Regions from separate parts of the Homo sapiens genome. Here region 2 is linked to region 1. Evidence: fine-mapped expression QTL. A gene starts in region 1. The other region holds a variant in brackets. All regions are shown on one strand. Distances are from middle to middle.

What was found. PIP is the estimated chance that this variant, and not a neighbour inherited with it, causes the effect. A credible set is the group of variants that fine-mapping cannot tell apart.
Region 2: its variant is the best candidate, but not a certain one, in a credible set for the expression of DYNC2I1 in unexposed skin (GTEx, PIP 0.69).

The regions. Positions count from the first base shown.
Region 1 is chr7:158,853,536-158,858,064 of GRCh38, forward strand. DYNC2I1 (dynein 2 intermediate chain 1) reads left to right here and starts at 3,023. Exons shown (of 25, transcript NM_018051.5): 1 at 3,023-3,215. The coding sequence starts at 3,201. It overlaps LOC124901796 (a long non-coding RNA gene), which reads right to left and starts at 2,987. Exons shown (of 2, transcript XR_007060627.1): 1 at 2,846-2,987; 2 at 1,603-1,861. RefSeq lists a silencer at 3,079-3,548 and an enhancer at 3,899-4,440.
Region 2 is chr7:158,898,326-158,902,325 of GRCh38, forward strand. It overlaps DYNC2I1 (dynein 2 intermediate chain 1), which reads left to right. Exons shown (of 25, transcript NM_018051.5): 9 at 3,414-3,491. Among named protein-coding and RNA genes, the nearest start is that of DYNC2I1, 44 kb to the left of the region's middle. The variant C/G (reference allele first, on the strand shown) is at 1,743.

The sequences.
Region 1 (4,529 bases):
GTAACCGCCCAACAGGTTCTCCTTGCCGGCTGCTCAGACAGAGATGATTTATCTAGATAGGAAATTGCAATAGAGAAAGAATTTAATTCACGCAGAGCCGGCTGTATGGGAGACCAGAGGTTTTTTTTTTTTTTTTTAGATGGAGTTTTGCTCTTGTTGCCCAGGCTGGAGTGCAGTGGCGCGATCTTGGCTCACTGCAACCTCCCACTCCTGGGTTCAAGAGAGTCTCCTGCCTCAGCCCCCAAGTAGCTGGGATTACAGGCATGTACCACCACACCCAGCTAATTTTGTATTTTTAGTAGAGACGGGCTTTCTCCATGTTGGTCAGGCTGGTCTCAAACTCCCGACCTCAGGTGATCTGCCTGCCTCAGCCTCCCAAAGTGCTGGGATTACAGGCATGAGCCACCATGCCCAGTGGAGTTTTATTATTGCTCAAATCAGTGTCCCCCAAAATTTGAGGATTGGAGTTTGAAGGATAATTTAGTGGGTGGGGGGGCGTTGAGAAGTGGGGAGTGCTGATTGGTAGGATTGGAGATGAAATCAGGGAATCCAAGCTGTCTTCTTGCGCTGAGTCAGTTCCTAAGTGGGGGTCACAAGACCAGATGAGCCAGTTTATCCATCTGGGTTGCACCAGCCGACCCATTGAGTGAAGGGACTGAAAAATGTCTCAAGCACCAATCTTAGGTTTTACAATAGTGATATTATCCCTAGGAGTAATTGAGGAGGTTTAGAATCTTGTGGCCTTTAGCTGCATGACTCCTAAACCATAATTTCTAATCTCATGGCTAATTTGTTAGTCCTCCAAAGGCCATCTAGTCCCCAGCAAGAAGAGGGTTTGCATCATTCTCAGCAAACTATCACAAGAACAGAAAACCAAACACCGCATGTTCTCACTCATAAGTGGGAGTTGAACAATGAGAACACATGGACACAGGGAGAGGAACATCACACGTGGGGGTCTGTCGGGGGGGGCTGGGGGATAGCATTAGGAGAAATACCTAATGTAGATGACGGGTTGATGGGTGTCGCAAACCACCGTGGCATGTGTATACCTATGTAACAAACCTGCACGTTCTGCACATGTACCCCAGAACTTAAAGTATAATAATAATAAAAAAAGAGAAGGGGGTTTGTTTTGGGAAAGGGCTGTTATCTTTCTTTCAAAGTTAAACTATTCTACGACCAGGAATGGACAAGGACAGCTTGGAGGTTAGAAGCAAGATGGAGTCAGGTTAGATCTCTTTCACTGTCATAATTTTCTCAGTTCTAATTCTTGCAGAGGTAGTTTCAGACTTAAGTTGCAGATCTAAAGTTACAATTGGCGTGTCTTTGTTTAAGTGAGGACACACATCTTGAAAGGTCTCCAGGCTGGCAAAACATTTACACCTGGGAGACTGGTGGGGGCCAAGGTGCCCGGCCCTGCCTTCACGGGGGCCTGGCTGGCAGGAGCCTTGCAGCCTGCAAAGCAACAGCTGTGCATTTGGAAGAGGGTGTTGGGCGACTCGGCTTGCAACCACCCAAGGGGTTCACCTTGCCCGCTGCCTAGACAGAGCCTATCGAGATGGGGGAATTGCAATAGAGAAAGAGTAATTTACACAGAGCTGGCTGTGCAGGAGACTAGAGTTTTATTATTACTCAAATCCATCTCCTTGAGCATTGAAGCATTCAGGGATCAGAGTTTTCAAGGATAACTTGGGTGGGGGGAAGCCAGTGAGCCAGGAGTGCTGATTGGTCAGAGATGAAATCATAGGGAGTCAAAGCGGTCTTCTTGCCCTTATCAGTTCCTGGGTGAGGGGCCACAAGATCTGATGAGCCAGTTTATTGATCTGGGTGGTGCCAGCTGATCCATCAAGTGCAGGTTCTGCAAAATATCTCAAGCACTGATCTTAGGAGCAGTTTAGGGAGGGTCAGAATATTGTAGCCTCCAGCTGCATATTAGAAACTACTCCTAAAACGTAATTTCTAATCTTGTGGCTAACATCAGTCCTACAAAGGCAATCAAGTCCCCAGGCAAGAAGGCCTGCTTTGGGAAAGGGCTGTTACCGTCTGTGTTTAAATTATAAAATATAAACTAAGTTTCTCCCAAAGTTAGTTCAGCCTACTGCCAGGAAGGAACAAGCACAGCTTGGAGGTCAGAAGCAAGATGCTGTGGGTTAAGTTACACCTCTTTTACTGCCTCAGTCATAATTTTGAAAAGGCGGTTTCAGGCTTTCAGCCCTAACTTTCCCTTTGGCTGAAGGAGTTCGGAGGTCCTGAGAGTTTTTGATTTTCCCTTACGTGTTGTATAAAAACAGTCTCTCAACGTTGATTCCTGCCTACCTTACTGCTTGTTTTTATCAAAAGACGACATATGGGAATATAATTTGTTAAGTGCAAAGCCTTATTCAAATGTAAAGCTCTTTTCTTTTTTTTTTTTTTTTTTTTGAGACAGAGTCTCGCTCTGTCGCCCAGGTTGGAGTGCAGTGGCGTGATCTCCGCTCACTGCAAGCTCCGTCTCCCAGGTTCACGCCATCCTTCTGCCTCAGCCTCCCGAGTAGCTGGGACTACAGGCGCCTGCTACTGCGCCCAGCTATTTTTTTTTTTTGTATTTTTAGTAGAGACGGGGTTTCACCGTGTTAGCCAGGATGGTCTCGATCTCCTGACCTCATGATCCACCCGCCTCCGCCTCCCAAAGTGCTGGGATTACAGGGGTGAGCCACCGCGCTCGGCCTCAAACGTAAAGCTCTTTTCAATATCTGCTCTCCCTTTCTATCTTCCCCGACTGTCAGTCCGGTCCCGTGGGAACCCGGGGCGGGTTGGGGCGAGTCAAGAGCCCCTGCACCCCAAGTCAGGGTACTGCACCTACCCCTTGGGGAGACCAACGACCGCTCGGTCCTCTGCTGCTCCTGCCTGGCGGTTGCTAGGAGCCGGGGAAGCGCAGGCGCATTGGGAGGGGCCGCGGGCACGCCGAGCAGCGACCACTCGGCCTTCCCCTGCTCCTGCCTGCCAGGTGCTAAAAATGCCGGGGATGCGCAGGCGCACTGGGAGAGGCCGCAGGGCACGCTGGGCAGTGCTTCTGGGCCCTCTGCTGCTCCTGCTTGTCGGTTGCTAGGCGCTGGGACGCGCCTCCCGAAGGGTGCGGGGCACAGGTGGCCTCTTCGGGGTGGACCGCGCCTGGCCGGGGCCGAGGACACCGCGGCCGCCCGGGCCTGCGGGAAGCGATGGAGCCCGGGAAGGTCGGTGCGGCGCTGGGTCTGGGCGAGGGGTGGTCGAGCTTCGCGGACTCCTTCGGGCGCCGCTAGCAGCGCCGCCGCCGCCCTCCCTTTGCGCAGCGGTTCTCTCGGCCGGGCCGGGGCTTCCCGGAGGAGCCGCGGTGCCTCCGAGGCAGGAAGGGAAACGGAGGCGCGGCTGGCCGTCGGCGCGAGGGATGGCAGGACGCCGGGCTCCCGGCGGTCGGGAGAGGCGGTCTGTGCAGCCTCAGGCCTGGGGTCGCCGCCGCGGCCCGTCTCCTCGCGCCCGGCCTGGAGGCGGCCTCGGCCCCTGCTGCGGGGCCGGGGTGGCTGAGGAGACATATTTAAAAGTTTATTAAATTTTAGCTGACTTAAGTTTAAATATGACTTGTCACAGTTTAAGAGGTTGAGAGAGTGCAGCCTGGGTGCTTGAGTTTGAATTCAGGATTTTGTATTTACTTGTATGACCTTGGCAAACTCACTTAACATGTCTTGTTTCCTAATTCATTCAATGGGCACAATAATAATAGCAACATTATAGGGTGTTTAAGAAGGTTAAGTGAGATATTATGTGTAAAAGTGCATAGACCAGTGCCTGCTTTCATTAACACTCAATAAATGTTAGATATTACTGTATTATTCTTATCTATTGATTCCCCACTGAAAGATGAGGAATTTAATTTGCATACATTTTCTTCTACCTTCACTCCTATTATTTTTTCCCCATCACTTACCTTTATGTGTTGAATAATACTCCTTAATTTGTATTTTATGTTATATAAACCTTAGGTTTTTGTTTTTTTTTTTTTTTTGAGATGGAGTCTCACTCTGTCACCAGGCTGGAATGCAATGGCACGAACTTGGCTTACTGCAACCTCCGACTCCAGGGTTCAAGAGATTCTCCTGCCTCAGTCTCCCGAGTAGGTGGGATTACAGATGTCCGCCACCAAGCCCAGCTGATTTTTGTATTTTTAGTAGAGATGAGGTTTCACCGTGTTGGCCAGGATGGTCTTGATCTCCTGACTTCGTGAGCCACTGCACCCGGCCTTTTTTTTTTTTTTTTTTTAAAGATAATTCCCCTTGTCGCCCAGGCTGGAGTACAGTGGCACGATCTCTACTCACCGCAACCTCCAACTCCTGGGTTCCAGCGATTCTCCTGCCTCAGCCTCCCGAGTAGCTGGGATTACAGGCAGGTGCCACTATGCCTGGCTAATTTTTGTATTTTTAGTAGGGATGGGGTTTCTCCATGTTGGTCAGGCTGGTCTCGAACTCCTGACCTCCGGTGATCCGCCCGCCTTGGCCTCCCAAAGTGCTGGGATT
Region 2 (4,000 bases), 45 kb after region 1:
AGAGGGATGTTGAAGTCTCCAGCTGTAATAGTGGATTCATCTATTTCTTCTTGCACTTCTATTAGTTTTTGACTTAAATAATTTGACCCTCACACATATTAAGGATTGTTATGTCTTTCATTAAAGACATAAAATTGGCATCTTTATCATTGTGTAATGCCCTTCTTTATTCATGTTGACTCTCTTTACTTTGAAGTGTGCTGCGTCAGAAATTAATATAATGACTTTTGCTTTCTTTTGATTAGTGTGAGCATGGTATATTTTTCTTCATTTGGGTTTCCTGAAGACAATAAGTAGATGGATCTTGTTTTTTGATCCTCTCTGACAATCTCTGTCTTGTGATTGGTACATTTAGATCATTGATGTTCAAAGTAATTATTGATATATTGGATTAGTATCTGCCATATTTGTTACTATTTTTTATTTGTTGCCCTTGTTATTTGTTCCTGTTTTTGTCTTTCATTCTTTTTTTGCCTTCTGTGGTTTTAATAGAACATCTTATGATTCTATTTTCTCTCCTTTCTTAGCATATCAGTTAAAGGTTGTTTTTTTTTTTTAACTTTTTAAAGTGGTTTAAATACATTTACAACCAATACAAGTCCACTTTTGAATAAGACTGTATCACTCCCATTCCTTGTATCCTTGCTGTCATTCATTTTACTTGTGTATAAGCAGACATAAGCATGTTATCCCTTGGTATTGGAACAGGATTGGTTCCTGGACCCCCTGTGGATACTAAAATCTGCAAACGCTCAAGTTCCTTAAGTAAAATGGCATAGGATTTGCATATAACCTATGCATGTTCTCCCATGTATTTTAAGTCATCTCTAGATTGCTTATAAAACCTAATACAATGTAAATGCTATGTAAATAGTTGTTATACTGTATTTTAAAATTTGTATTATTTTTTATTTTTATTTTTCCAAATATTTTTGGTCTGTGGTTGGTTGAATCCATGGATGTGGAACCCACAGATAAGGAGGGCTAACTATGCATATGTGTACACAAACACACATACACACACACGGATAAATACCTAAGCATACGTAATTGAATACATTTTTGCTACTATTATTCTGAACAAACTGTTATCTGTTAGATCAATTAAGGAAAAGAAAAGGAAGAGTTATTTCCCTTTACTTATTTCTTCTTCCATCTTTTCTTTTTTTTATATAGACCCAAGTTTCTGACCTATATTATTTTCCTTCTGATAACGGTTTGGCTGTGTCCCCACCCAAATCTCAACTTGAGTTTATCTCCCAGAATTCCCACATGTTGTGGGAGGGACCCAGGGGGAGGTAATTGAATCATGGGGCCTGGTCTTTCCCATGCTATTCTCGTGATAGTGAATACATCTCATGAGATCTGATGGGTTTATCAGGGGTTTCTGCTTTTGCCTCTTCCTCATTTTCTCTTCCTGCCACCACGTTCAAGAAGTGCCTTTTGCCTCCTGCCATGATTCTGAGGCCTCCCCAGCCATGTGGAACTGTAAGTCCAATGAAACCTCTTTTTCTTCCCAGTCTCGGTTATGTCTTTATCAGCAGTGTGAAAACGGACTAATACACCTTCTTTCTGAAGAACTTCTTTTTATGTTGCTTGCAAGACAGGTCTACTGGCAACAAATTCCCTCAATTTTGTTTGAAAGTCTTTATTTCTCCTTCACTTTGGAAGCATAATTTTATAGAGTATATGTGTAATTTTGGGCTGCTGAATATTTTTCTCTCAGTACTTTAAACATTTCT[C/G]TATGCTGTCTTCTTGCTTGCATGGTATCTGAGAAACTGAATGTAATTCTTTTTTTTTTTTTTTTCTTTTTGAGACAGAGTTTTGCTGTCATTGCCCAGGCTGGAGTGCAATGGTGCGATCTCAGCTCGCTGCAACCTCTGCCTCCCAGGTTCAAGTGATTCTCCTGCTTCAGCCTCCCAAGTAGCTGGGGTTACAGGCAAGTGCCACCACGCCCAGCTAATTTTTATGTTTTTAGTAGAGATGGGGTTTCACCATGTTAGTCAGGCTGGTCTTGAACTCCTGACCTCAGATGATCCACCTGCCTCGGCCTCCCAAAGTGCTGGGATTATAGGTGTGAGCCACCGCGCCCAGCCTGTAATTCTTATCTATGTTCCTCAGTAGATAAAGTGTTTTTTCCCCATCTGGCTTCTTTCAGGATTTTGTCCTTATCTGTGATTTTTCTGTAGTTTGAATATAAGATGCCTAGGTGTAGATGTTTTGATATTGATCTTGGTGTTCTATGAGCTTCCTGGATGCGTGGTTTGGTGTCTGACATCAGTTTGGAGAAATTCTCAGTCATTATTGTATCAAGTATTCTGTTCCTTTCTCTCTTCTTCTGCCATCCCCATTATACATGTGAATACCTTTTGCAGTTGTCCCACAGTTCTTGGATATTTTGTTCTGTTTTTTTTTTTTTTTTTTCCTTCCCGCTTTTTGTTCTCTTTGCTTTTCAGTTTTGGGGGTTTCTATTGAGGTATCATCAAGCACAGAGACTTTTCTTCAGCTCTGTCCAGTTTACTAATGAGCCCATCAAAGTTGTTCTTCACTTCTGTTTCTGTTGTTTTGTTGTTTTTGACCTCGAACTTTCCTTTCTGGTTCTTTCTTAGACTTTCCATCTCTCTGCTTGCCTGCTATCAACTTTGTCTATTAGAGCTCTTAGGATGTCCTCATAGTTGTTTTAAGTTCCTGTTCTGATAATTCCAACATCCCTGCCATGTCTGGAACTGGTGCTTGCTCTGTCTCTTCAAACTGTATTTTCTGCTTTCTAGTATGCTTTGTAATATCTTCTTGATTGTGCAGTGGCGCGATCTTGGCTCACTGCAACGTCTGCCTCCCAGGCTCAAGCAGTCCTCTCACCTCAGCCTCTGGAGTAGCTGGGAACACAGGTGCACACCACCATGCCCAGCTAATTTTTTGTATTTTTGGTAGAGATGCGGTTTCGCCATGTTGCCCACGCTGGTCTTCAGCTCCTGAGTTCAAGTAATCTGCCTGCCTTGACCTCCCAAAGTGCTGGGATTAAAGGTGTGAGCCACAGTGCTCACTACAGCTACACTGTCTTTAATGGTGTAGATAAGCTGAGCACCATTCAGCGGGGAATATATTCATGGATAAGAAATGGATTGCTGCACATTTGAAGTTTATTTGTAAAACACTTAAAAAATTTTTAGCCACCAGAATTATAGAGGTTTCCCAAAAAGGATGTTTACTGTTTTCTCTTTTTGGTCCTACCTGTAAGTTAGCAAGGGTATTTCTTAAAGGAATTTAACATTATATTAGTTTTACAAATACCTAGAGTTTAAAATTAGCAACATCAAAGGAATGTCAGAAAACATATATGTTTTCCCAATCTATTTGCAATATTCAATTTTATGATTGAATTTTTTGGTTTTGTGTTTGATTTTTACCTCTAGGAAATTGAAAAGGAAGAAACTGATTTAGAAAATGCTAGAGCTGATGCATATACAGCCAGTTGTGAAGATGATTTTGAAGTATGTATAAAAGTTAAAACTTTCCTTAGCTTAAAAATCATTTATTCTTAAAAATCAGCTTATATATAGTAATTTGATGTCCTTTTTATTCTTTTTATTAATCCTAATACTCAATATCTGGCTAGGTTGATTTAGGTCAAGCTGTTACCTGTAAAATGCTTGCTATACTTCTACTAATACTTACCAATATGATGTAATTAAATGATTTTATAATTTAACTCATATTTAAGTGCAGTGCATAAAAAGATGTATACATAGGTATCTATAAAAATACATACACTTTCACATTCTCAGCACAAATGTTTGCACGTGATGATAGTTGATAGGTCTTCTGTATATGGTTCTGTATTGTGTGATTTATTTTTAGAGAAATAAAGGTAGCAGTTTATATAAATTTACCTTCAAAAACATTAAAATCAGGGAACTATAAATATCTTTCTTAGCTGTAATAAGGACATTGTCTGTTTTAAGTTATAAAGTGTCATGTTTTGTTCAGTATGAGGGATAAT